Homo sapiens: one gene and its partners. The protein of the gene in region 6 interacts with the protein of the main gene of each other region in a pairwise test. Each region holds a gene or a part of one and is shown on either strand. Other genes may lie near its edges.

What was found.
Region 1: the proteins of ARL13B (region 6) and ENTPD3 interact in binary tests that used the Homo sapiens proteins (3 or more experiments, as listed by UniProt).
Region 2: the proteins of ARL13B (region 6) and CD151 interact in binary tests that used the Homo sapiens proteins (3 or more experiments, as listed by UniProt).
Region 3: the proteins of ARL13B (region 6) and MOSPD3 interact in binary tests that used the Homo sapiens proteins (3 or more experiments, as listed by UniProt).
Region 4: the proteins of ARL13B (region 6) and TMEM43 interact in binary tests that used the Homo sapiens proteins (3 or more experiments, as listed by UniProt).
Region 5: the proteins of ARL13B (region 6) and SLC2A5 interact in binary tests that used the Homo sapiens proteins (3 or more experiments, as listed by UniProt).
Region 7: the proteins of ARL13B (region 6) and TM6SF2 interact in binary tests that used the Homo sapiens proteins (3 or more experiments, as listed by UniProt).

The regions. Positions count from the first base shown.
Region 1 is NC_000003.12:40,385,795-40,389,983, forward strand, and holds the start of ENTPD3 (ectonucleoside triphosphate diphosphohydrolase 3), read left to right. Parts: upstream 1-1,389; 5' UTR 1,390-1,467; exon of another isoform or gene 1,468-1,597; intron 1,598-2,251; 5' UTR 2,252-2,263; coding exon 2,264-2,303; intron 2,304-4,189. UniProt on the Homo sapiens protein: Has a threefold preference for the hydrolysis of ATP over ADP.
Region 2 is NC_000011.10:831,602-835,751, forward strand, and holds the start of CD151 (CD151 antigen), read left to right. Parts: upstream 1-1,350; 5' UTR 1,351-1,425; intron 1,426-2,391; exon of another isoform or gene 2,392-2,466; intron 2,467-2,928; 5' UTR 2,929-2,990; intron 2,991-4,150. Other genes in the region: CRACR2B (EF-hand calcium-binding domain-containing protein 4A), read left to right, coding at 1-108. UniProt on the Homo sapiens protein: Structural component of specialized membrane microdomains known as tetraspanin-enriched microdomains (TERMs), which act as platforms for receptor clustering and signaling.
Region 3 is NC_000007.14:100,611,244-100,615,339, forward strand, and holds the start of MOSPD3 (motile sperm domain-containing protein 3), read left to right. Parts: upstream 1-1,296; 5' UTR 1,297-1,548; coding exon 1,549-1,753; intron 1,754-1,950; coding exon 1,951-2,026; intron 2,027-2,233; coding exon 2,234-2,463; intron 2,464-3,623; coding exon 3,624-3,788; intron 3,789-3,908; coding exon 3,909-3,940; 3' UTR 3,941-4,096.
Region 4 is NC_000003.12:14,131,552-14,135,051, forward strand, and holds part of TMEM43 (transmembrane protein 43), read left to right. Parts: intron 1-28; coding exon 29-123; intron 124-994; coding exon 995-1,044; intron 1,045-1,311; coding exon of another isoform or gene 1,312-1,314; coding exon 1,315-1,384; intron 1,385-2,187; coding exon 2,188-2,258; intron 2,259-3,218; coding exon 3,219-3,340; intron 3,341-3,500. UniProt on the Homo sapiens protein: May have an important role in maintaining nuclear envelope structure by organizing protein complexes at the inner nuclear membrane. Required for retaining emerin at the inner nuclear membrane.
Region 5 is NC_000001.11:9,066,836-9,070,975, reverse strand, and holds the start of SLC2A5 (solute carrier family 2, facilitated glucose transporter member 5), read left to right. Parts: upstream 1-1,340; 5' UTR 1,341-1,439; coding exon 1,440-1,472; intron 1,473-4,140. UniProt on the Homo sapiens protein: Functions as a fructose transporter that has only low activity with other monosaccharides. Can mediate the uptake of 2-deoxyglucose, but with low efficiency. Essential for fructose uptake in the small intestine.
Region 6 is NC_000003.12:94,042,655-94,046,154, forward strand, and holds part of ARL13B (ADP-ribosylation factor-like protein 13B), read left to right. Parts: intron 1-360; coding exon 361-586; intron 587-3,500. UniProt on the Homo sapiens protein: Cilium-specific protein required to control the microtubule-based, ciliary axoneme structure. May act by maintaining the association between IFT subcomplexes A and B. Binds GTP but is not able to hydrolyze fit; the GTPase activity remains unclear.
Region 7 is NC_000019.10:19,263,866-19,267,083, reverse strand, and holds the end of TM6SF2 (transmembrane 6 superfamily member 2), read left to right. Parts: intron 1-474; coding exon 475-594; intron 595-2,210; coding exon 2,211-2,420; 3' UTR 2,421-2,718; downstream 2,719-3,218. UniProt on the Homo sapiens protein: Regulator of liver fat metabolism influencing triglyceride secretion and hepatic lipid droplet content. May function as sterol isomerase.

The DNA of each region.
Region 1 (4,189 bases), about 54 Mb from region 6:
CCTTATGTTTCATTGTCCCACAGCTTTCAAAGAAAACAAGTCTTTTAATTCAGCAAGTATTCACTGAATGTCTGACACCCCCAGTGCAGACCCTGTCCCAATCCCCCAATGGGGTCCACCTCTATCCAACTCTGGGTGAATGACCATGGTGCTCTTGCGCGCGGGCACACACACACACACACACACACACACACACACACACACACAGGCACACACACATAACTCAGGCTTGGGGCCCACCTCTCTGGGCTCAGAGGTATCAAAGCAGGGGCATTCCTATCTTAAGGACTTCTTGTCTTAGGGGCTTTGGCCCCACCTGCACAGGACAGAAAATTAGTGGATTTCTAGGAGAAAGCAGGCTATGGCAGGGTATAGCCAGGGACTCAGCTCTTCCTTCCAGACATGCAGGAACCATAAGGAGGGATGGTCAAACAGGGCCTGCTTAGGCCTCTTGCTGGGATCACTCCAAGGGTCTCTGGGGTCACTCAGAGGAGCCGGGAGGCTGCCTGCTGCTGTACACTGAGACAGACTCCTGGGGTGTTTGGATCACGGCAGCCCACATGCTGCCTTTTTGTTATCTTTTCTGTTTTGCCTCTTCCGGGCTGTACTTGTCTTGAGTTTTTGGCCTTATGACATCCATATTAAATGGGGTAGGGCAGAGCATTGCTCAGTAAACAGCAAGAATGGCCCTGGGCATGGCCAAGGCAGTTCTGCTAAGTGTGAAAGGGAATGTGCCTGCCATACTTTGTGCTTTAGGCCCAAGTGACCTAGGGGCCAGCCTGCCTACTGGCCTCACTCCCAACATTACAGGTGTTTGACTCTACTCCACCCCGTGGAGAGACGGAGCACAGGAGCCACCCACCGGGGGACCACATAAGGTCATGCACACCCACAGAGTGCCCAGTCCCTGCCTGGCCTTGTCCCCATTTTCCCTCCACCTAGGGTTGGGGTGACAATGGAGGTAACTAGAAGACAGATCAAAAGGTTCTTGGTCTTGACACAGATGCAAGAAGGAGGCAGATAATAGACACCTCCCTTCCCCCTCGCCCACATAGGCTCCGGTGGGTTCTCAGGGCAAGGCCTGGCTCCCTCCTCTCCGACTTCAGGTACAGGTGAGTGTGGAGGGAACTGAAAGAGGAAAGGTGAAGTGCTGTTTGGCTTCGACCTGGAGGGGGACAGAAGGCTCTCTGGGCAGGCAGGGCCGGTCTTTTGGCAAGAGGCGCGCTCTCTCTCCCTTCCCCTTCCATCGAGGGCTGGGTGTGAAGGTGAGAGCAATCAGAAAAGAAGGTGAAGAGGTACTTGGCCTTGACACGGACGGGGGGGGCGGTCCCAGGCCGAGGCCGCCCCGCCCCCGCCCCGCTATACCCGGCGCCGCCTCCCGGCGTCTGAGCTGACACCTCCTTAGCGCTGGCCGCGGGCCGCCTCTGCGGCAGCGCTAGTCGCCTTCTCCGAATCGGCTCCGCACAGGTAAGATCAGGGGACCCGGCGCCTGAGCTGCCGAGGAAGGAGTCGGGGGTGCTGCGTGAGACTGAGAGTTGGGAGGCAAAGAAACAAAATCGGATTTCCTCAGAGGGCCAGAGGAAGAGACTGAAACACGGTAGCCCCAAATCCTTGGGCGGCTGGGAGGTGGTCCCTGTCATGCCCACGACGGGTGGGCGCGTCTTTACCGACAGCCTGCATGGATCCGCAGATGTGCTGGGCGCTTAGATGCCTGCGGCTATGCAGAGACGCAGTCCAGAGAGGTGACCCCAGATCCTGGTGGGGGCTGGATCCCAGGGCCCCGACATCCCTTTGCAATTTCCAGCCAGCAGCTAAAGACTCCCTTCCCGGGGCTTTAGAGAGGCTCCAGGCTCGCGATCCATGAACACACAAAAACCTTCCTTGCTCATGTTCTGAAAAAAAGCCCCGCCTCAGCTTTGTGAATGTTAATAATAGGGGGAAGATTTGTTCTCTCTTGGGTGTGTGTACAGGTGGAACAATCTGCAGAAAAAGACCTTTTTTCGGAAAACCTTTTCAGTTTGAAGTTTCAGCAAATCCATTTTTCATTTCCTTTCATTTGGGGAGATGACATGAAATTTAAGCTCCAGCTTTGGGGCTGTCTCTGAAGTTCTGGGGTTCGGCTTACCTTTCCCGGGATGAGGTTTTGATTTGGAGGAAGTAAAATGGGTTTTGTCTTAACCTGGGCTCGTTCTTTAAACTTGTGAGGCCGGGGCGGTGGACTTACTGACATCCTGTATTCTCTCACCTGCAGCTAGGAGAAAAGATGTTCACTGTGCTGACCCGCCAACCATGTGAGCAAGCAGGTTAGTATCTCTCAGCAGGTAGCAAGCGTGGTTTTGCCAAATCGCAAGAGAACCCCAGCTTCGGCCTACAGTTTTTCATCCATATCCCCTGCAAATGATTGTTTAACTTTATTGGTTTGAGACTCAGTACTCAGCTGGGTTTCAACACCGGCATTCCTCAAATAAAAGTAATGCTTTTCATCAAAGCCACACAAAACAAGGACTAACATGCATGTTTCACTTAAATGGTTTTTCCGGTTTGTATAATCCATTAATTTGGCCCTTGTGGTTTCCCTTAGCTAGCTGTGTGTAACGTTTGCTTTAGAATACTGTATTGTTGATTTTGTGATCAATTGTACAGTACTTGGATCTTTCCTGTATTCCCATCCAAATGTTGCTGGCACAGTGCCTACAACACCCCCACCCCTCACTGTGAGTCAGTGTTGTTATGGTTGATACTGCAGGCACAAGTGCAGGATTTTCTCACACTGGAAGGCACACACACACAGACACACACACACACACACACACACACACACACACACACACTTCTAAGCTTGCCCCGCCTGCCTCTAGAGCACTTTTTGGAGTTGCTCATGTGGAAGCCCAGAAGGCTCTGGCTTCTCCAAGCTCAGGTAGGTACCTTGCAATTACCATGTTTGTCCAGCCCTAATGACAGCACAGCTCTAGGCTGCATTTCCTAAATGAGTAAGACCTGGTCTCATCCATTTTGCTTTGTAATAAGCTTTTCTGCAAGGACAAGAGTTTGCTTAAGGTAATCATAGCTTTTTACTTGAAAACTGCTGAAACACAGAAGACTTAGGAGGCCAGCCACGTAGCTGTGGTCAGGAAACTGCATACATATCACACACTCCTCCCCCATGGATAGACATTCTTTAGTCATGCCCCTAAATTGGGTATTCTTGTCTTCCAAAAGGATATGATTTTAGGATAGTAAGGGCAATCTATATGAACTTTTATTTTTGTAAAGGGACATTGCACTTGAGGAGCTGTTTTCCTTTGATCTTTAGGTTTTCCCCCAAAACACTTTGAAATGTTAACACAGATTGTAACGTCACTCATACAGACTAACCTGTTACATTCCTTCCAAAGGACAAGTTTAACTTGGCAGATTAAATTTCTACCCCATTTTGTTAGAGGGAAAAAATCCCTTAAACTTCTATAACTAACACTGACAAATGCATTCTTTGAAAGCTAATGCAAAAGTTTGCCTCTGTGGATTAACTGGTTCCTGTACTTTTATTTGGAATCACAGAAAAGTGATACAGGACCTCTTTACATGCTCTGCAGGTCAACTCCATGGCAGTTGGCTCTCCTTTCCATTGCTATTACCCACAATTCTGTAATGAGTAACCTTGTGTCTAAGTCATTTTACACATGTGGAGCTAGTTCTGTGGGATAACTTCCCAAAAGAGTGATTGTGAGTCAGATGGCATGCTTATTTGCAGTTTTCATAAATATTGACAAGTTGCCCTCCATTGATGCTGTACCAGTTTACACTTTCAATGACAAGGTAGGAGGATTAAGGTGTTAAGTGACCAACTTTGACACCAAGAAGTGTCTGTGACTGCAGCTACACTGCAGGGGAATCAGTTGAGATGGAAAGAGTTAGCTGTTCTGAGCCATGAAGACCTACTGCGTGACTGCCCTCCTGTAGCAAATGTTGTGATGTGACTGAATTTGGGGGCTGAATCTAATTATATCGTGGGCGCATAGACATGCCCTGTTATTCTTCTGGGAAAATGGCTTACAGAAATAATGGAGGGGTAAAGCATAGGTTATAATGATCTAGGAATAATGTTCTGGAATAAGACAGGATCTATCCAATTGCTGTTCAATTGATCTTCCTATAATGATGAAAATGTTATATGGCTGCACTGTCCAAT
Region 2 (4,150 bases), on a different chromosome or scaffold from region 6:
AGGAAGGCTCTGACAACAGCCCGCCTGCCTGGGCCCACCTGCTGCTGCTGCTGTTGCTGGGCTCGGCCCCCCAGACGCGGCTCTGGCCACCTTCCCAGTGCCCGGTGACCAGCCCCGAGTGACTCACGGACCATGAGCTAGAAGCTGCCCTTGCAGGAGGCTTGTCATGGGTCGGGGGTGCCCACTCAGGATGCAGGCTCTCCCCAGTGGGCCCCAGGCTCGCCTGACTGAAGACATGAAGGACCTAGCCTAGGAGTGGTCAGGGTCCCGGGAGTGGCCAGGGTCCCGTGTGTGCCCTCTGCCAGTCTTCGCTCTGTCCCCGTTCAATCAACCCCATCTCAGTTCAGCAGAAAACCCCCTCGTCAAATAAAACCCACTGACTGCACTGCGTCCTCCTGGGCCTTCCGTGTGTCTGGGAGCCACAGCCTGTGTGTGCCACATGGATGAGGTGGGCACCTGTGCACGCGTGCTGTGTGGGTGAATACAGGGAGCGCGGGCCTGTGGCGATGGGGCTGAGGTCCTGCGTGTCCTCTTGTGTCCCTGGTCATGCCCCAAACTCACACTACCCATCAAGGCTGGAGCCCCTCGGGGCCCTCGCCAGTGTGTGGATCAGGGCTCCCCACTGTCTCGCCAGGGAGGCCGGGCAGGTTCCCGGCCTCAGTCGGCCACCCCCTCCCATGCTGGTCCTCCCCTGTGGCTGTGATGAATGAGCTTGGTGGGTGGGCAGCCCCCTCCTTCCTCACTCCCACTCTTGGCGTCTTGGTGCAGCCCTAGGCCGGCCCTGCCCTTCGTCCCTCACCTCCTCGCACCGCTCCCAGTGGTCCCTTCCAGTCTGGAGGGCATGGGCCCCCCAGGACCCCATGGGTATGTCTCGCTGGGACCCCAGGCCTGCCCGGGTCTCCAGGCTGTCCACACTGCACGTACAGTAGCCCTTCTCCCGCATTTGCCCACAGCGCTAGGCCCTCCCACGCCCCAGGCCGGCATCGGTTCTGCCGACCCCTGCAGCCTCTGGGCGGTTCCTGGGTGAGGAGAAAGAGATGGGGGTTGGGCATGGAGGAGGGCCGGGTCGCCACAGCCCAGGGCCTCTGGCTAGGCTGGTCGCCGTCTTACCTCCGGGCCCGCCTCCCGCCCAGCTCCTCCGTCCTTGGACGGGATGGGCCCTTGCTGGGCTATTGGCGCCCCCAGGGCTGCAGCTCGCCCGGCCTCCGCAGTGCCAGGTCGACCCCCAGCGCCTACACCCACGCGGGTTCAGACCTGCCGAGCGCCCGCCGCCGCGGGAGGGGCTTGAGGCCGGGGCGGGGCCGGGGCGGGGCGGGGCGGGGCGTCCCCCTCGTAGGCTCCGGGCCGCGCATTCTCAGCGCTGGGAGCCGCCGCCCCCGCAGCTGCTGCCGCCGCCGCCAGGGCCCGGACTCGGACGCGTGGTAGGTGAGTGCGCGGCCACGACAGCTCGGCCGAGCGGGGCGAGCGGGGCGAGGGGGGCGAGGGGCGCGAGGGGGGCGAGGGGCGCGAGGGGGCCGAAGGCCCTGCGCGCCCCAGCCCCGGAGGCCCAGCCGCAGGCGCCGGGAGGTTCCGGGAGGCCGCACCCACCGCCTGGCCCAGCTCCCTCGCCTGCCCCAGCTCCCTCGCCTGCCCTTCCGCGGGAGGCGGACTCCGGGCGGGTTGGGGAGGCGCAGCGGGAAGGAGAGGCGCCTCCCGGGCCCTTGGACCGGCCTGACGGCCCCCTTCAGCCCAGGGGTCCCGGGACGCGCAGCCTGGACACCCTGCTCATTGTCCCTGGACACGGCAGTCTTCCCTCCGCCCGCAGCAGCCCCCGCCCGCGTGCAAGTGGGCGCGCCATTGGCCGCGCCGGGCGGGGTCGGCGGCGGCGGTGACCTCATTGCAGTGCCCCGGGGACGCTTGGCAGGCGCGGAGTCCCAGGTCCCCCTGACTGGGGCTCCCCCTGATAGGGCGCGGGCCGCCCAGGGGCCTGGTGCAGGTCCCGGGGACTTGGGGAGGAACAGACAACTATTTCTGGAAGGCCCTTTCCCAGGGGGTCCAGAGGGACCAGGCATTCCTGGGAAGAGGGGCCACTCCTCAGCGGGTCGCCTGTGTCCTCGCGGTGGAGGACGCATCTGTGCCCAGAACCAACTTCTCCAGAAAGCCTGGGACCTTACAGCCAGGCCAGGGGCAGGTCCTTGAGGGGCTCACACATCCCCCCATCGGTGGCAGACGCACACCCCGCCCCCCGGTGGCAGACACATCCCCCCGCTGGTGGCAGGGTCTGCCTGTGCCACCCTTCCTGCGTGTATTTAGGCCCTGGCTCCTTCATGGAGGGTGAATATCCCCTCTCAGCTCAGTGGTAAGGTCTGTCCCCCTCCAGCTCCATTCCATGATGCCTCTTTCCCAGGCTGTAGCTGCCGCTGTTTGTGGGGGAAGGGCCAGTGATGGGTCTGGAGCGAAGGCCAAGAGTGGGGCACCTGGGGGAAGGTATGAGGTCCCTCCCAGGATCAGACTGTCCCGAAATGTCGTCTGCCTTGGGAGGCCAAGGCGGGTGGAACATCTAAGGTCAGGAGTTCGAGACCAGCCTGGTCCACATGGTGAAACTCTGTCTGTACTAAAAATACAAACATTAGCTGGGCGTGGTGGTGGGTGCCTGTAATCCCAGTGACTCAGGAGGCTGAGGCAGGAGAATTGCTTGAACTCAGGAGGCGGAGGTTGCAGTGAGCTGAGATCGTGCCATTGCACTCCAGCCTGGGTGACAGAGCGAAACTCCATCTCAAAAAAAGAAAAAAAGAAAAAAACAAAATGTCTTGTGCCTTGCCCCACCCTAGCCCAGACTAAAATACCGGGCTTGGCCACTCCTCTCTCTGCCTCCAGAATGAACCCGGCCCACTCTGGCCCTTGGGCCAGACCTGTAACCTGTGACCTGACATGTCCTTGCCCCTCTAGCCTAGAGTCCTGGGGAGCTTCTGTCCACCTGTCCTGCAGAGGAGTCGTTTCCAGCCCGGCTGGTGAGTGCTGGCCAGGGTGGGGCAGAGCAGGCGGGGCGGCGAAAGTCCAGACCTGGCTGTGCTGTCTGGAAACGTGGCCCAGGGCGCTCAGCTGCTGTCTGCACCCCACGCCCTCCCTGGCTTCCCCATGCTCACAGCTTGCCCACTGCTGCAGGTCGGGCGGGCACGGGGCATCTGGGGAGGGGCATAGCCTGTCTGTGCTGCCCCCTCAGGTTGGTGTGGGTCGCCTGTCCAGGAAAAACCCTCCCAGTCTGCCAGGCTCCACCTGCCTCCACGCTCCATTCTCCCCACCCCGGCCAGGATGAAGGAAGGGCTGCCCTTTAACAGACCGTAAACAGGCCTGGAGAGCTTAGGAAGGGGCTGAGCTGGGGCCTGTCTGAGCCCCTACCCCTCTGCTGTCTGAGTGGCCTCCTCCGCCCTTACTGCAGGCCCATAGGCTCCTGCCAGCCTGTGACGTGCGGCCCCGGGAATGCCGTGGGGAGCGGGCAGGCTGGCATGAGCTCACCGGAGGTACCCGCTAGGGCTTCCTCCCCCGGCCGCTAGCAGGGGTGAGTCAGCAGTGATGGCGGGAGGTCCTCCATGACCCCTGTCCTGTCTGTGGGCACCAGGGGTCTGTCCTGGCTGTCAGGGCTCCTGAGTCGCTAGGAAGTGACACGTCCTGTTCCCACAGGGGCTCATTCACAGGCCTCCCAGGACAGTGGCTGGCTCTGCCCCGACTTCTGGGCTGGCTTGGGTATCTGTGTCCCCTCTTTTTTTTCTTTTTTATTGAGATGGAGTCTCACTGTCGCCCAGCCTGGAGTGCAGTGGCACCATCTCGGCTCACTGCAAGCTCCGCCTCCCGGGTTCATGCCATTCTCCTGCCTCAGCCTCCCAAGTAGCTGGGACCACAGGCGCCCACCATCACGCCCAGTTAATTTTTGTATATTTTTGATGGAGATGGGGTTTCACCACAATGGCCAGGCTGGTTGTGAACTCCCGACCTCAAGTGATTGCACCTGCCTTGGCCTCCCAAAGTGCTGGCATTATAGGCATGAGACACCGCACCTGGACTCCTTTCCTCTACTTTCTTTGGGTTAATTTGCTAGTCTCTTTTTATTATTTATTTATTTATTTTGAGATGGAGTCTCACTCTGTCGCCCAGGCTGGAGTGCAGTGGCACC
Region 3 (4,096 bases), on a different chromosome or scaffold from region 6:
CAGACTTTGAGCCTGGGGAAGGAACAGTGGCTCTCATGCACTTTGGGAGGCTTAAGTGGGAGGATCGCTTGGGCCCAGGAGTTCGAGAACAGCCTGCAGAACATAGCGAGATCGTCTCTACAAAAAATTACAAAAAGCCAGGCATGGTGATGCACGCCTGTAATCCCAGCTACTCGGGAGGCTGAGGCAGGAGAATCGCTTGAACCCAGGAGTTGGAGGCTGCAGTGAGCAATGATAGCGCCACTGCACTCCAGCCTGGGCGACAGAGTGAGACTCTGTCTCTAAAAAAGCAAAAAAGAGGGCGGGCACGGTGGCTCACGCCTGTAATTACAGGACTTTGGGAGGCTGAGGCAAGTGGATCGCCTGAGGTCAGGAGTTCGAGACCAGCCTGACCAACATGGTGAAACCCCGTCTCTACTAAAAATACAAAGAATTACCCGGGCGTGATGGCGCACGCCTATAATCCCAGCTACTCGGGAGGCTGAGACAGGAGAATCGCTTGAACCCTGGAGGCGGTGGTTGCAGTGAGCCGAGATCGTGCCATTGCACTCCAGCCTGGGTGACAGAGCGAGACTTCGTCTCAAAAAAAAAAAAAAAAAAGCAAAGAAAACAGGCTTGGTTCCTGCAGAGGCTTCTAGAGCCTGGAATGAAGAGGAGGAAAAGGGCTTCCCGGTGGGAGATTGACTTGGACCATCTCAAGAATAGGGAGGAAAGAACAAAGCCCAGTTCGAAACCCCGCCCCCGGTTCTCTGAGTTACTTCAGGGCTCGAGTTCGAGCCAGTACAACTGTTACGTCACCGGAATCCAGCCAATCGCAGACGACAGAAGGAGGGCGTTGTTTGGTCTTTCAGCACACCAATCGGCGTATAGTTACGGCAGAAACAAAGACGTCCTAGCCAATGACAGAGGCCGTACGGCGGAAGTATAGAAAAGGACTCTCTGGAACATGGCAACATTAATCTGACCACAAGCTGACTGGCAGGTGCTTTAACCACAAGGTGGGCATCCTAACGCGAGCGACCGTTTTGAGGCAGAAGCCCGATGGGGCCCGTGTCCGAGCTTAGGGAGGGGCCGGAGACGCAAACACAGGTCTCCCAGGAAGCAGGCGGCGTCACAGGTCGCTCTGCAGGCGCCCGCTGCAGCGGGCGGAGTCTGGCTGGAGAGAGGAGGCGGGCGTCCGGGAACGCCCGGAAGGGGCGAGGCCAGCGGCGGGGCGGGGCTTATGGAGATCGTGAGCTGGGCGTGAGGAGAAGGCCGGGTTGGGAGCTGCGAGGGGCCGGGTTTAGCGGGGTGGGCGTGGCCGTCGAGGTGGGGCTCGGCGGGTCCGAAGGAACCTGGGGCAGAGCTGGAAGAGGAAAGGTCTTGGGGGCCCTGGGCCTGGGTCTGCGGGAGCCCCATCTAGCGGGGTTCCAAGGCGGCGGCGGCATCAGTCGAGGCCCTGCTCCGGGAGCTCATCTTGTCCCCTTTCGCCCCTCACGCCCCCCAGCTCTGACTCCAGGCCCTGTCCCCTGAGCTCTGCCCTCGGATGTCCGACCGCCCAGAGCCTGCATGCGCCGTGGGGCGCCCCAGGACCAGGAGCTGGTGGGTCCGGGGCCCCCTGGGCGGGGGTCCCGGGGCGCCCCTCCTCCCTTGGGACCCGTTGTCCCGGTCCTGGTCTTTCCCCCGGATCTAGTATTCAGGGCGGACCAGCGGAGCGGACCCCGACAGCTGCTGACCCTCTATAACCCCACAGGAACTGCGCTTCGCTTCCGAGGTAAAGGGATCGGCGCCTCGTGGGGGCTGGTGGCCGGACACTGGGGGGTTGTGTTGGCTGGAGGAGTCAGATGGGTAGGGTTGCACGTCCAGCTTTGGTGGACTGGGAAAGTCATGTCCAGCCTCCGGGGCAGAAGGCAGAGGGGACTTAAATGACCCACATGGCAGGGCTTGTCTGTGTGTGTCTCTATCCCCCAGTCCTGTGCACAGCACCTGCCAAATACACGGTGTTTGACGCAGAGGGATATGTGAAGCCCCAGTCTTGCATTGACATGTGAGTGAGCTGGGAGGGTGGGGAGGCTTGTGGAAGCCAGGGGTCGCTGCCACCTGTTGTCTGAGGTCTGAGACCTTGCCCCCTTTAACCTATTTGCCCTATCCTCTGCCTGTGCCCCTAAGGGAGAGACTTCTGGGGGGAGGCCCAGATTTCCTTGGATTACTGCCTCATTCACCCCAATGGGCTTCTCTCCTACCTTGGGACCAGTGTGATTCGCCATGTGGCACCCATTCCCAGCCACTATGATGTCCAGGACCGCTTCCGCATTGAGCTGTCTGAGGAAGGAGCTGAGGGCCGAGTGGTGGGACGCAAGGACATTACCTCCATTCTGAGAGCCCCAGCGTACCCCCTTGAGCTTCAGGGACAGCCAGATCCAGCGCCTCGCCCAGGGCCTCCTGCTGGGACACCACCACCCACGGCCAGACACTTCCAGGAGCGTGAGTTGGGAGACTGGGATCTTGAGTTCTGTAGGGAGGGAGGAACTAGCATTTCCCTAGAGATGAGATAAATTGGATTTGAAGAAGTCTCCTGGTTCAGTCTTTTGTCTTTTGGTGGAAACATTCCTCCGAGTTGAGATTTTATATCAGGTGAGGGGGAAAAGACTTACAGCTTCCCTGGTTTCTGACTTCTACTTAGAGGAAAAAGTTCTTCCTTGACTGTAACCGCAGTACTTCCTATCATGTGGTAGCTCAGTTCAGTTCAATAAGAAACCTGTATTGAGCAATTAACCCTGTACCAAGTTGTGTGCTGGGTATGAGATCAAGAGAGGTCCCTGCCTGTCGGATAGGTCCACAGAAGAGAGAAAATGAATGCTGAGGGACTGGAGGAGAGAGTTCTTGTGGTGGTGGGGACAGAGGCTGTAGGAAGGAGAGGACACTTGCAGTGTACCCCTGGAGGGCAGTAAAAAGTAGATACAGGGTGTGATGGCTCACGCCTATAATCCCAGTGCTTTGGGAGGCTGAGGTGGGCTGATAACCTGAGGCCAGGAGTTCAATACCAGCCTGACCAACATGATGGAACCCCGTCTCTACTAAAAACACACAAAAATTAGCTGGGAGTGGTGGCTCGCACCTGTAATCCCAGCTAGTCGGGAGGCTAAGGCAGGAGAATCACTTGAACCTAGGAGGCAGAGGCTGCAGTGAGTCAGGATTGTGTGGCTGCACTCCAGCCTGGGTGCAACAGAGTGAGACTCCGTCTCAAAAAAAAAAAAAAGTAGATACAGGGTGTGGTGACTCACACCTATAATCCCAGTGCTTTGGGAGGCTGAAGTGGTGGGAGGATTGCAATTGCTCGAGGCCAGGAGTTCAAGATCAGCTTGGACAACATAGCAAGACCATCTACAAACAACTTAAAAATTAGCCGGGCATGGTAGCATGAACCCATAGTCCCAGCTACTTAGGAAGCTAAGGCAGGAGGATCACCTGAGGCCAAGAGTTCCAGACCAGCCTGGACAACGTAGTGAGACTCCATCTCTACAAAAAATAAAAGATAATTAAAAAAAAAAAGTAGATACATCTTCCTTGTTCAGGCTTCTCCCTGGAGGACCTGGGCTGGGCAGGAGTGGGGGCTGCAGCATCTGATGAGTCTTGTTTCTCAGACCCCCGCCAGCAACTGGCCACCAGCTCCTTCCTCCTCTTCTTGCTGACGGGGATTGTGTCTGTGGCCTTCCTGCTGCTCCCACTCCCGGACGAACTCGGCAGCCAGCTGCCTCAAGTCCTGCACGTCTCCCTGGGACAAAAGTTGGTGGCCGCCTACGTCTTGGGTGAGGACAGTAGTGGCCAGGGACCCAGGCCCCAGGAAAAAGGGAGAAGGGACGGGAGGAGAGCTAACAGAGCCCCAGGGCTGCCCATGCGACCCTATTCTTTCTTTGTCCCCCCTCCAGGCCTCCTCACCATGGTGTTCCTCCGGACCTGAGCTCCGTGCTCAACCCCCAGCCCACCCCACCCTCCCTGGGCAGGGTCTTGAGGCAGCCACTGTGATGCTCATACCTTACCTTGCCTCCTACCCTCTTCTCTTTCCTGCCTACTCCCCACTCCTCCCTGACAAAAAACACCCAGGGATTTGTACTCA
Region 4 (3,500 bases), about 80 Mb from region 6:
TTTTTGGTTTCTTTGATTCTGTTTGAAGCTTTTGTCTGATCCAAACTATGGGGTCCATCTTCCGGCTGTGAAACTGCGGAGGCACGTGGAGATGTACCAATGGGTAGAAACTGAGGAGTCCAGGTGAGCTGTTGGGGTGAAAACTCTGTTGGGGTAAAGGAGGAGTGAAGTGTAGGTGTCAGGATAACATGCAGATGTCTTTCATTTTGATACCTTTGAAACTCAAGTATAACATCTTCCTATCAGAAAAGTGTGAAATGATCCCCAAATTAATAGCCAGTGATTTGGAAGTGGCAAAAATCCAGTGAAGAGTGGCTCCAGGAGGAAAGGGGGATTGAGTTGCTCCCACATCTGGGAAGTTCCAGAGATGCACAAGCTTGAAGCATGACTTGGAGCAGGCCTGAAACACTGTCATTAGGATCAGCATGTCAACCCCGAGACCCCACTGCATCTCTCTGTGTTCAGCCTTCCCATCAGCTGTGTTGGTCCCATCTTTGCTCTACTTACAGCTTATCGTTTCTGACAGGAGTCCCAGGGCAGGTTCTCATTGATCAGGGCTGGGGTCACCTGGAGCTGGGGGTGGGTTCAGCCCCACCTGAATCATATGGACTGTGACCGACAGGTGGGGAGGTGGTGGGAGGAGCAGGAGAAGGGCAGCTTCAAGAGGCCCCCCGCAGGGCTGTCCTGGAGCAGAGGATGCAGCCAGATCTCTGAGCCCAAAGGGCAGGGCTGGGCCCCTTGGTGTAAGGCCAGTGCGGGCAGATTTCAGCTCAGGATGGGAGAGCGCTTTCCTCCAGGTAGCGCCTTGGAGGGCAGGAGCTGGCTGTCTGTCAGGAGTGAGTGCCCTGTCTTGGGGCTGGTGTAGAGAAGGCATCTGCCGTATCTGGGGAGTCTGATCTGGTAGCCCTGAGGTTGCTTCCTGCTCAGATGCTTAGAGATTAGACTGCCTGGGGCGACGAGGCTAACCCCCGTGGCTGCTTTGCTTTCCCTGCAGGGAGTACACCGAGGATGGGCAGGTGAAGAAGGAGACGAGGTATTCCTACAGTGAGTGCTGGGCCCCTTACGTGGTCTCTGCCCATGGTGGGGGCCCACAGTGGTGGCTGGACAGCAGGGCTGTTGGTGGGGCCATGGGAAGGATTCAGCACCAGGCATCAGGATCCCTGGGTGCAAGTCTTCAGAGCCCTGCTTTCCCACCCATCCATTGAGGCTCCCTGACCCACCCCTTTGGCTGTGAGATAGGAGGAGCTGGGCTGGTGGGTCTCAGCCGCGTGCCACTCCTACCCGGGCTCTGAGTTGATTCCTCTCCCTGAGCAGACACTGAATGGAGGTCAGAAATCATCAACAGCAAAAACTTCGACCGAGAGATTGGCCACAAAAACCCCAGGTGAGAGCCAGGCCCAAGGCCTGAGTGCAGCTTTGTCTACACTGGCAGGTCTCCAGCCTCAGTTTCTTCATCTGAATAACAGGATTGAGTTAATCCTGCCTCGTGGGTTGAAAATGTGGGACATGGGTTTGAGACCAAGCCCTGTGCTGGGCACCAGGAACACAGAGACTTGTCTCCCCTGACCCCAGACAAGCTCCCCGCAAACAAGTCACAAATATAAGGCCTGCACTAAGCGTCTAAGGGGATTTGCACACACGGGGCCGGGGAAGCATTTTGTTAATGGTTTGCCATGGGTGGGAGGACAATCAGGACAGGCTTTCCAGAGGCAGCGGCATTTGTTCAGGCTTCTCAGGATTTCAGCAGAGGGAGGTTAGCTCCACGGCATGCCAGTGGTGAGGCGGGCATAACACTTGGGTGTGGCTAGAGAGCAGGCCTTGTTCAGCAATGGTCTGGGCTGTGCCAGTAAGATGGTTGGGATGGAATGCTCTGGGAGGGGCTAGTGAGGGGTGTAAAGTCCATGCAAGATACATCTGACAGCAGTGGGTGGGGCAGGACAGGCTGGCAGGGGTCTAGGCAAGAGGGTAGGAAGCTCCGGGGAACAGGAGACAGAGTGAGGGTGCTCAGCCCAGGGGAGGGGGCACAGGGCCCCTGGGGGTGGACAGGACAAGATGTCTGCTGCGCCTGGGCTAATCTGGACTTGCAGGAACCCCCGGGTGGGGACCCTGCCCAGCACAAACAACCCAAAGGGACCCGGGCAGCTCCCACACCGGTGCCCATCTCTGACAGCTTCCTCTCTCCCACAGTGCCATGGCAGTGGAGTCATTCATGGCAACAGCCCCCTTTGTCCAAATTGGCAGGTTTTTCCTCTCGTCAGGTAAGTCTCAGGCCTCTCCAGAGGAGCTCGTGCCAGAAGCACAAGGCCCCCCTAGGGCCGGAGCTCCCAGTACTCAGCCTTCAGAGGGCTAAAGGCACAGGATCAGTCTGCACCTTTCCCAGCACCATGCTTTGGGGGCCAGGGGAAGGCGAATCCCCAGGAAGCAAGGGCTGACGTAGAAACCCCCACCCCACTCCATCCTACCAGGTTCCTCTGAAATCTGGGTTGTTCCAGAGAATGACTCAGGCATGCATCCTCACCCTGCTGCGTGCCGGTGTCTGCTGAGTAGACTCTGCTGAGACAGTCCTTCCTCAAGCAGACTCCGGCTAGTAGTAGACATGTGGTGGCTCAGTGCTCTCAGCCTAGGGCTCCCCCTCTCTGAGTTCCACCTGTCCCAGGAAGGCACTAGCTTATCACAGGCATCCCCCATTGACTCCAAAGAGAAGCTTGCAAGGGATAAGGTGGCACCATGGGCCAGAGTAACCCTGGGGCTCTGTTCCTGGGCCTGACCCATGAAGGTGGGAGAGGATACCAAGGGCCCAGATAGTCCTGGGGAGGCTGGATGATCCTGGGCCTGGCCTGGCCGCTTTCTGTGTGCTTTGTTGCTGGATGGTGCCTGTGTGCCAGCTGGGCCTGCCCTCAAGTAGCTCTCAACCCAGGAGGTGAGTCAGGCTTGGACGTGGATGGCCGTAACCTTGATGGAAGGGAAAAGGGCTAAGGCCACTCCCAGTGCTGTGGTCACTCTGACTTGGTGGGAGAGGGCACAGGGAAAGCTTCCTGGAGGAGATGGTCTAACCCAGGGGAAGCCGTGGACGAGACAGAGTCAGAAAGAGGCACTGCAGGTGGGAGTGCCACGTGTGCAGGCTCCAGGGGTGCAGTGGAAGGGGGTCAGGCCAGGGACTTTGCAGATTGAGGTTTTCACCTGGTCCCCTGGGTTTCTAACCACTCTGGTCCCCTCAGGCCTCATCGACAAAGTCGACAACTTCAAGTCCCTGAGCCTATCCAAGCTGGAGGACCCTCATGTGGACATCATTCGCCGTGGAGACTTTTTCTACCACAGCGAAAATCCCAAGTATCCAGAGGTGTGCGGAGAGGCCTGGGCTCTCCAAATAGGAGGGTCAGGGCGCTAGGATCAGGTTCCTGCGCCAGGCAGATTCAGTTCAGTCGCATGCACAGCTGCACTTGGCCAAGTGCAGCTGAGTGGGAGAGGCCCTCTGGGTGACGGCACAGCCTGGGCACGGG
Region 5 (4,140 bases), on a different chromosome or scaffold from region 6:
CTATGCGTTAGTCACAAGTCAGTGTGCTAGGACAGTGATACGCAGAAGAAAAAGACAGGCAGTAGCTGGTGAAAGGGAATGCTGAGTTCTCCCTTGTGAATAGGGACCCCCCCGACCCCCCAACACACACACACACACAGACGGCCACGCTGCTAGGCTTCTCACAGTCTCCCACCCTGAGCAACCCTGGGGATTTGCTGCTAATGCAAGGAACAGTGCCTAACACAGGCTCCCAGTCTCTGCTTGTTTAAAGATGCATGAGATTCAGAATCAATCACTAAAGTAACTGGATTTACGCCACAGCAAATAGAACTGGGAGTATGTTCTGTAAAGATGAAAACCTGTGGGACTTGTGAGACTTTGGATTTTGGCCACTTGCGCTGGTGTGCCCTGTGGCAGCTGAATGAGTGCCAAACATGGGGGGCTGACAGTGGCCTGGCCTTGAGATGGCCGGACCCGGACCAGCAGGTGTGACTCATTTTCCCTGCCCTGCCTGGAAAGGGGTTCGAGGTATTTACCACCTTCCCAGTAGTGATGAATACACAGAAAGTAACATCCCTAGGTCATTCTGAGCTCCTTAAAATGGAAAATAAGAGGCCGGACACGATGGCTCACGCCTGTAATCCCAGCACTTTGGGAGGCCAAGGAGGGTGGATCACTTGAGGTCAGGAGTTCGAGACCAGCCTGGCCAACATGGCAAAACCCCGTGTCTACTAAAAATATAAAAATTAGCCGAGCGTGGTAGTGCACGCCTGTAATCCCAGCTACTCAGGAGGTGGAAGCAGGAGAATCGCTTGAACTCGGGAGGCGGAGGTTGTAGTGAGCTGAGATCATGCCACTGCACTCCAGCCTGGGACAAGAGCGAAACTCCGTCTCAAAAAAAAAAAAAAAAAAAAAAAAAAACAGAAAATGAGAAACTTTCCCCAAACAGTATTACACGGTGACTTGGGCAAAACTGACTCTCCACCAAGAGACACTTGACTGTAGTTTTCCTGGCAGGGAGAGCATCTTTGAGGTCTCTAGTGGCCCAATCTGTTGCCCTCAGATTACCTGGTGTCATGTAGGGTGGAGGACAGCTGTTGTTTGCCATGCGTTCCTGACAGAAATAACCCTTCCAGTCATTCACCATGAGCCTGACTGGTAGAGACTTTAGCAATGGGGAAATACCGTAGACTGTTCCATCAGGACAATGCTGGGCCTGCAGTCCCCAGGGGGCACCCACTTACTTAGCCAAACCCCAGACGTTTCATTTAAAAGCAGAAGTGAAAGGAAGACCAGGTTCCTGAAAGGGTTATTCTGACTTAATCTGGCTATAAAAATGCTATTGGCTGTTATTTGGCATGGCCAAAGTGCACCCAGAATGTCTTCTCTCTCCATTCAGTGCACGCGTTACTTTGGCTAAAAGGAGGTGAGCGGCACTCTGCCCTTCCAGAGCAAGCATGGAGCAACAGGATCAGAGCATGAAGGAAGGGGTGAGTGTGTTGCTCAGGGAAAGGGGCCAAGAGCAGGCTTGGCTGCCAGGGCCTGTGCAGCCTTCCTGGAGAGTCGCTGGGGGGCTCCTGGTGTTGCAGAGGGAACTCTGTGTTGGGAGGGATTATGGTGGGGAGAGGGGGAAAGTCTTGTCCAGCAGGTGGTCTTTTATAGGGAGGAGAGAGGTTTAGAGACAAGTGCTCTGTGGAAATCATTCTACTGGAACAGCCTTTAACAGCAGGATCTGTAACTGAATGGAAGAGACCCAAAGGATTCATTTGTCCCAACTTGAACCAAACATGTTAGCTGCAAAATCCTTCTATGGTTGGTGAGATGTTTCGCTCTGCTTTCGTTTTGCTTTTGGCTTCAGGGCAGTTAATTTTTTCAGCAAGTAACATAGCTGAGCTGCATGAAAGCAAGATAAACTCAGAAAAGGCGTTGCTTGATTTGAATTTAGTTCAGATCTGTCACGTAGGTTTCCTGCCTTTTAGATCCTGAGGCTCCCTTGTTTTAGAGAGGAAAGATTTTCATGGACTCCTGCAACGTAATTGCAGTTTACTTTCTAGATTCCCTTGATTGAGGAAAATGCATAATGTCAGAAAAGTAACACTGACTTATTAACACTTTATAAGAATTTGCATTTATTCATCACAATAGCATCTGCTTATATTTGGAGTGGAGGAAGGATAGTGCACATTTTTGCAAAACAGCATTTGTTCAGGCATGGATGTGAGACCCTCACCATAGGCAGACTGGAAACATGCTCTGTAGCACATAGATTAAGAGTGGGTCTTGGGAGGCTGAGGTGGGTGGATCACCTGAGGTCAGCAGTTCGAGACCAGCCTGGCCAACATGGTGAAACCCCATCTCTACTAAAAATACAAAAATTAGCCAGGCGTGGTGGCAGGTGCCTGTAATCCCAGCTACTCAGGAGGCTGAGGCAGGAGAATCACTTGAACCTGGGAAACAGAGGCTGCAATGAGCTGAGATCACGCCATTGCACTCCAGCCTGGTCAACAAGAGCGAAACTTCATCTCAAAAAAAAAAAAAAAAAAAGAGTGGGCCTGGGAAGTAGAAGCCCCCAGGATTCATTCCTGCTCCATCCTATTCTAGCTGTGGGACTTGGGTAAGTTCTTTAACTCTTCAGTGCCTCAGTTTTCTCATTTGTAAAATGGGAGTAATAACCATACCGCCTCATAGGGTGCTGGAGCAATTAAATGAGATAATGCATGTAAAGTACCTGGCACAGAGTGAGTTCCCCGTAAATGTTACTACTTTTCTTTCTCTCTCTCTCGCTTTTTTTTTTTTTTTTTTTTGACACAGAGTCTTGCTCTGTCACCCAGGCTGAAGTACAGTGGTGCGATCAAGGTTCACTGCAACCTCCACCTTCTGGGCTCAAGCGATCCTCCCACCTCAGCCTCCCAAGTAGCTGGGATTACAGGCATGCACCACCACACCCGGCTAATTTTTGTATTTTTAGTAGAGATGGGGTTTCACCATGTTGGCCAGGCTGGTCTAGAACTCCTGACCTCAGGTGATCCGCCCGCCTCGGCCTCCCAAAGTGCTGGGGTTACAGGTGTGAGCCACCGCGCCCGGCCATCGTAAATGTTACTACTTTTCAATCATTCTTTAGGCTGGTTTCTCCACCTCCGCGTGATTTCCATTTGGCACTGGCTAACGCTTCGTTGTAGGGGCTGTCTTGTGTGTTATAAGATGTTTAGCCGCGTCCCTGGCTCTACCTTCTAGACGCAGTAGCTCCCTCCCCCAGGAGTGACAACCGATGTCCCCGAGAGGGCAGAATCCACTCCCAGCCCTCAACTGAGAGGCACTGCTTTGGAGTCTACTCAGCCCCTTCGCTTGGGTCATCTTGTTTGTCTTACAACTAAGAAAGTGTTAGACAAATCAAGTGTCATCACCTCCATTTTATAGAAAAGAAACGGAGGTGATGAGGACTTAGGTGTTTGGGGTCCAGGGAGGTCCTCCGCTGTCCAGAGAAAGGCACAACTGCCACGTTCCCCACGTCCACCAAGTCCAGCTGCAGAAAGGAATGGAAACACCCCCACGTGGCAGGCCCTGAAACTGAGTAACACATTGCGAAAGGAAATGATTCAGATGGCCACATGCGAGAGGCATGGGCTGACCCAGCTGCCTGCTGCCTCAGCCCTCCAGGGAAGGAAGCCTCCTCTGGGCCAGAGGGATGAAGGTGGGGATGGGCTTCCCGCTCCTGAGAGCAGCCTGCCCCTTGGGGAGAAAGCTGGGGCGTGCTGGGCTTCCCAAAACACTCTGAAGGAAGCGATCCCAATGGTCTGTAAGAATCCGGGAAATCATTAAGTGCAGCCGAGAGGGGAGGTAGGAGCCAAGGAGAAATGCGGGGGCAGGCGAAGGCTACAGAGGCTGCGCGGTCCGGGGAGGAGGGCGTCTGGCAGTATGGAGCCAGCTGCCTGCCCCTCAGTGGTTGTGTGGCAGTGGCCTCACTGGCCTTTTCTCTTCTTTTTCTTTCTTTTTCCTTTTTTTTTTTTTTTAATTTTGAGACAGGGTCTTACTCTGTTGGCCAGGCCAGAGTGCAATGGTGGGATCATAGCTCACCGCGGCCTTGAAGTCCGGGGCTCCAGCAATCCTCCCACCTCAGCCTCCCGAGTAGCTGGGACTACAGGCATGTAGCACCACCCT
Region 6 (3,500 bases):
TGGGTGATGTATGTCTGTACATGATATAGGTATGTATGTGTGGGGGTTGGCAGAGAAAATCATCTCTTAGTGATTATATACTGAACAGATTATATACGGAATAATACAGATGAATAGTAGTCATCTCTAGATTGTGGAATTACTGGTAATATTTGTTTGCTTTTGTTATACTTTCTGTTTTACTGAATGTTTGACATTTAGCATCTTTTAATGATGTATTCATGAAATCATTTTTAAAATAGAAGTCTCACAGTGTCCTTGAAGTTACAGAATCCTGTTAAGGTATTTGATTTCCTCTCCCTTAAAACTATCTTAGATAAAACCATCATAGTAAAGATAATGTATTTTATTTTTTGTTAGAATGAAGGAAAACTTGAAAGAGAGAAAAAAAACCAAAAAATGGAGAAAGACAGTGATGGCTGCCACCTGAAACATAAAATGGAGCATGAGCAAATAGAGACACAAGGCCAGGTTAATCACAATGGCCAAAAAAATAATGAATTTGGACTAGTAGAAAATTATAAGGAGGCATTAACACAGCAGTTAAAGAATGAAGATGAGACAGACCGGCCATCATTGGAATCAGGTAATAAATCTAGTTATTTAAAGTAATTATCTTATGTATATATAAATAAAACTTATACTTCATCTCATTTTTTATGTTTGTTTTTACAAACGAGTACTTCAATATTTTTCTGTCTTCAAATGCCATATTTACCATGATTTTCTCAAGGTCTTTTATTATTCAGTTTGTTCCTAACCTGTTTTTCCATGACTTAAAATGTGGTCCTTTGTAACTTATAAGGATTTCAGCAGAAAATTCCATTTTTATTTTCATAAATTTGGGATACAGCATAGCTCTCAAGAATCCTTGGAATAGCCCTCCCCCTCCTCCCCCTCCCCCCTCCCTCTTCCCCTCTCCCTCTTCCCCTCTCTCCCTCCCCCTCCCCCTCTCCCCCTCCCCCTCCTCCCCTCCCCCTCCCTCTCCTTCCCTCCCCCCTCCCCTTTCTTTCTTTCTTTCTTTCTACAGTCTCCCTCTCTTGCCGAGCCTGGACTGTACTGCCATGATCTCGGCTCACTGCAACCTCCCTGCCTCGGGCTCCTGTGATTCTCCTGCCTTAGCCTGCCGAGTGCCTGGGATTCCAGGCACGCGCCGCCACTCCTGACTGGTTTTTGTATTTTTGGTGGAGATGGGGTTTCGCCATGTTGACCGATCTGGTCTCCAGCTCCTGGCCTTGGGTGATCCGCCCACCTCGGCCTCCCGAGGTGCTGGGATTGCAGACGGAGTCTCGCTCACTCAACGCTCAATGTTGCTCAGGCTGGAGTGCAGTGGCGTGATCTCGGCTCGCTACAACCTCCACCTCCCAGCCGCCTGCCTTGGCCTCCCAAAGTGCTAAGATTACAGCCTCTGCCTGCCCGCCACCCCGTCTAGGAAGTGAGCAGCGTCTCTGCCTGGCCGCCCATCGTCTGGGATGTGAGGAGCCCCTCTGCCCGGCTGCCCCATCTGGGAAGTGTGGAGCGCCTCTGCCTGGCTGCCACCCTGTCTAGGAAGTGAGGAGTGTCTCTGCCTGGCCGCCCATCATCTGGGATGTGAGGAGCGCCCCTGGCCGGCCGCCCTGTCTGGGAAGTGAGGAGCGCCTCTGCCCGGCCGCCCCGTCTGGGAGGTGAGGAGCGCCTCTGCCCGGCCGCCACCCCGTCTGGGATGTGAGGAGCGTCTCTGCCCAGCCGCCACCCCATCTAGGAAGTGGGGAGTGCCTCTGCCCGGCTGCCCTGAATGGGAAGTGAGGAGCGCCTCTGCCCGGCCACCCCGTCTGGGAAGTGGGGAGCGCCTCTGCCTGGCTGCCCCGTCTGGGAAGTGAGGAGCGCTTCTGCCTGGCCGCTCCATCTGGGAGGTGAGGAGCGCCTCTGCCTGGCCGCCACCGCATCTGGGAGGTGAGGAGCGTCTCTGCCCGGCCGCCACCCTGTCTGGGAAGTGGGGAGCGCCTCTGCCCGGCTGCCCCATCGGGTAGGTGAGGAGTGCCTCTGCCCGGCTGCCCATCGTCTGGGAAGTGAGGAGCGCCTCTGCCCGGCCACCCATCGTCTGGGAGGTGAGGAGCGCCTCTGCCCGGCCGCCCCGAATGGGAAGTGAGGAGCGCCTCTGCCCGGCCGCGCCGTCTGGGAAGTGGGGAGCGCCTCTGCCCGGCCGCCCCGTCTGGGAAGTGAGGAGCGTCTCTGCCTGCCCGCCCCTCGTCGGGGAGGTGAGGAGCGCCTCTGCCCGCCGCCGCATCTGGGAGGTGTACCCAACAGCTCCGAAGAGACAGTGACCATCAAGAACGGGCCATGATGACGATGGCGGTTTTGTCGAAAAGAAAAGGGGGAAATGTGGGGAAAAGAAAGAGAGATCAGATGGTTACTGTGTCTGTGTAGAAAGAAGTAGACATAGAAGACTCCATTTTGTTCTGTACTAAGAAAAATTCTTCTGCCTTGGGATGCTGTTAATCTATAACCTTACCCCCAACCCTGTGCTCTCTGAAACGTGCTGTGTCAACTCAGGGTTAAATGGATTAAGGGCGGTGCAAGATGTGCTTTGTTAAACAGATGCTTGAAGGCAGCATGCTCATTAAGAGTCGTCACCACTCCCTAGTCTGAAGTACCCAGGGACACAAACACTGCGGAAGGCTGCAGGGAGCTCTGCCTAGGAAAACCAGAGACCTTTGTTCACGTGTTTATCTGCTGACCTTCTCTCCACTATTATCCTATGACCGTGCCACATCCCCCTCTCCGAGAAACACCCAAGAATGATCAATAAATACTAAAAAAAAAAAAAAAGAAAGAAAGAAAAAAAAGAGTTAAAATGCCAGAGCCCCCAACTGATCTGTAGATTTAAGGCAATTCCAAACAAATCCCAGCATGAGTCTTTGTAGATATAGGCAAGTTCATTATAAAATATATGTAAAAGTAAAGGACTGGAATACCCAAAACAATTTTGAAGAAAGATCAAGGTTAAAGACTCATACTACCCAATTTAAGACATACTATAAAGTAGTGGCCGGGCACAGTGGCTCATACCTGTAATCCCGACACTTTGGGAGGCTGAGGCGGGAGGATCACGAGGACAGGAGATCGAGACCACAGTAGAGACCCCGTCTCTACTAAAAATCCAAAAAATTAGCCAGGCGTGGTGGTGGGCGCCTGTGGTCCCAGCTACTCAGGAGGCTGAGGCAGGAAAATGGCGTGAACCTGGGAGGCAGAGCTTGCAGTGAGCCGAGATGGTGCCACTGCACTCCAGCCTGGGCAACAGAGCAAGACTCCATCACAAAAAAAAAAAAAAAAAGAAAAAAAAAAGACATACTATAAAATAAAACCACAGTGATCATAACAGTATAGTATTGACTAGAGGATAGACACAGAGATCAATAAAACACAATAGAGATTCTAGAAATAGATCCCCAAAATATGGTAATTTTAATGAGTTTCATTGAGGTATAATTGACTTACAACAAACTGCACATATTTATAGT
Region 7 (3,218 bases), on a different chromosome or scaffold from region 6:
GAGCTCTGCTTTCTTTGCATGGCTTCACTCTCAGGCAGTCCCTTTATGGGGTGGCAGAGACAGCCTGTGGCAGCTTCAGGCTTCCATGCACCCCACTCAGCCACCCCAGAGCAATGTGAGCCCTTATTACCCCCGAGCTTAAGCACAAGTCTTAGGCAGGCTCAGATTGGCCCAGCGTGAATCACTTGCCCATCCCTTACTGAGCATCATGGACAGGGGGCTGGAATGCTCCGACTGGCTAGGCCAGGGTCGCATGCCACTTTCAGAGAAAGGTTAGTAGGTTTGGTGTATGTGTTCGGGGGTTGGGGGCAAGGATCCCCAAGGGAAATAGAGGAGCACTTTGCAGAGAGCCTGGGTGGGGTCTGAGGCCATCCAGATCCTTCCTCAGGGCCTCCACCTCAGGGGTCTCAGGAGACCCACCTGGGGTAGCTGCTCATCTCACAGGCTGGTGCCCCTCTCCTCCCGCCCCTGCAGATGCTGATGTACATGTTTTATGTCCTGCCTTTCTGCGGCCTGGCTGCCTATGCTCTCACCTTCCCTGGTTGCTCCTGGCTTCCAGACTGGGCCTTGGTGTTTGCTGGAGGCATCGGCCAGGTGAGGTGGCGGATGGGTGGGTGAGCAGGCATGTGGGAGGGAATTTCTGTCTACTCATCAATGCCTTTGGTGTCCTCCCTGGGCACTGTAATGATGAGCCCCCAAGAGGCCCCAGCCCCAGGCCCAATATCCCAGGATTCCCTAGTCTAGGGGAGACAAAGCCAGATACAGACACTCCAAGCCCCATGAAAATAGGGACAGGGGCTGTGAAGGATTCCAGAGGGGAAAGGTTTCCTAGAAGCAAGGCATAGGAGCTAGGCTTTGATGTACGAGGATGAGTTCTCCAGGCAGGGAAGGGCATTCCAGGAATGGGAACAGCACAAGGAGAAGCACAGAGGGAGAGAGTGACTTAGCAGGGCCATAACCCAGGTAAAGGCAGATAAGAGAAATTGGCAGCTGGATGCTGAAGGCTTTGAACTCTGGGACTAGGGGCTTGTACTGAGGGTGATGGGGCGTTTGAGGAGGAGTTTGAGCAGTGAGGGGCCCAGTCAGAGCTAGGAGCCTTTTTCTGGGTTCCTGATGAAAAGTGCTAAATCCTGGGCCCCGGCCAGGGAAGTAGGGACCAGGAAAACATTTAGAATCCACAGGATTTGTGCCAAGACCTCTGGGGTGGGGAAGACTGGGAGGAGGATCTGGAGCCAGGTCAGAGAGAGATGGGGTGCAGGGCCCAGGAGATGGGGTTAGGCAAGTTGGGGGGGACTCACAGACAAGTGGACAAGCACAGGGAGGGACAGACAGGACATGTAAGGGCAGGAATCTTTACAGACAGAAGGCCAGGTGAGGTGGCTCACACCTGTAATCCCAGCATTTTGGGAGGCCGAGGTGGGAGGGCTGCTTGAGCCCAGGAGTCTGAGACCAGCCTAGGCAACATGGCAAAAACCTGTCTCTACAAAAAGTACAAAAATTAGCTGGGCATGGTAGCACGTGCCTGCTGTGCTAGCTACTCGGGAGGCTGAGATTGGAGGATCACTTGAGCCCAGGAGGTTGGGGCTGCAGTGAGCCATGATTGTGCCACTGCACTCCAGCCTGGCCAACAGAGCAAGACCCTATCTCTAAATAGATAGATAGATAGATGGATGGATGGATAGATAGATAGATAGATAGATAGATAGATAGATAGATAGATAGAAATTTTAAAAATAGGCCAGGCATGGTGGCTTATGCCTGTAATCCTAGCACTTTGGGAGGCCAAGATGGATGGATTGCCTGACCTCAGGAGTTCGAGACCAGCCTGGGCAACATGATGATACCCCATCTCTACTAAAAATACAAAAAATTAACTGGGCATAGAGGTGCACGCCTGTAGTCCCAGCTACTCAGAGGAGGCTGAAGCACGAGAATCACTTGAACCCAGGAGGCAGCGGAGGTTGCAGTGAACCGAGATTGCACCACTGCACTCCAGCATGGGCAACAGAATGAGACTGTGTCTCAAAAAAAAAAAAAAAAAAAAACAGATAGATGGACTGGAGATGGGAAACAGATAGATGAGCAAAGCCCGAGAGGTGGGGATGGGCATCCCCTGGGTTCTGCCTGACCTACCTGGGGGGCTGTCGGTGATGCTGGGATTTCAGTTCCTTCCTGGCCCCTGACATCCATCTTCCCTGTCTGGCTACCAGGCACAGTTCTCGCACATGGGGGCTTCCATGCACCTGCGCACACCCTTCACCTACCGTGTGCCTGAGGACACCTGGGGCTGCTTCTTCGTGTGCAATCTGCTGTATGCGCTGGGCCCCCACCTGCTGGCCTACCGTTGCCTTCAGTGGCCCGCATTCTTCCACCAGCCACCACCCTCCGACCCCCTAGCCCTCCACAAGAAGCAGCATTGAGAGAGCTGTGGACTCAGGACCCAGGACTCTGTTTACGTGCCCAGTCAGCCCTACCTGGGGAAGCGGGGGTTGGGTGTTTTAGAGACAGGAGGGACATCTCCGGGTGTCTTTAGTCTTGGCTATGGTAGTTTCAGTCCAGTGGGTGGGATGGAGACCAACGACCAAGTGTTCCTGCAAGGAGAGCCTCCCACAGCTGTCACCATGCTCCAACTCCCACACAAACGCTTCTACCCCTTCCAGAACTTACCCATCATCCCCCCATGGATCCTTTCAGTAAAAACCCTTTCAATTTCCAAAATATCACTGCCTAAGTGTTTCAGGGTGCAGGGGCAAGGGATCCTCTTCTTGGCCCCCATGAGGGCCCACCTATCACTGCCATCGTGGTTGCCAGGAGTGAGAGGTGCTGGGATAGCAGAAGGCGGCCTCTGGTTGGTATGCACGGCTCATCTTCCAGATGGGAAAACCGAGGCTCAGTATGGACAAGAGACCTGCCCAAGGTCATGGCCAGAGAGAAAAGTTCCTGCTCTACCAATAAATCATAACTAATAGCATGATACATTTATTAAGCACCTACTGTATACCTTGACTGCTACATGCTGGATCTCACTCCATATTCCAGATGGGGAAACCAAGGCTGCAGGAGGTGAAGGTCCTGGTCTGAGATCATTCCCCCGCTCAGTCCCCAAGGCATGGCTGAGCTAAGAGATGGAGCCCCAGCCTGTTGGACCACAGAAACCACAACTCTGCCTCTCCTATCTGGTCGGGTTGGGCTCATTTTAGGGGAAACTGAGTCCTGGA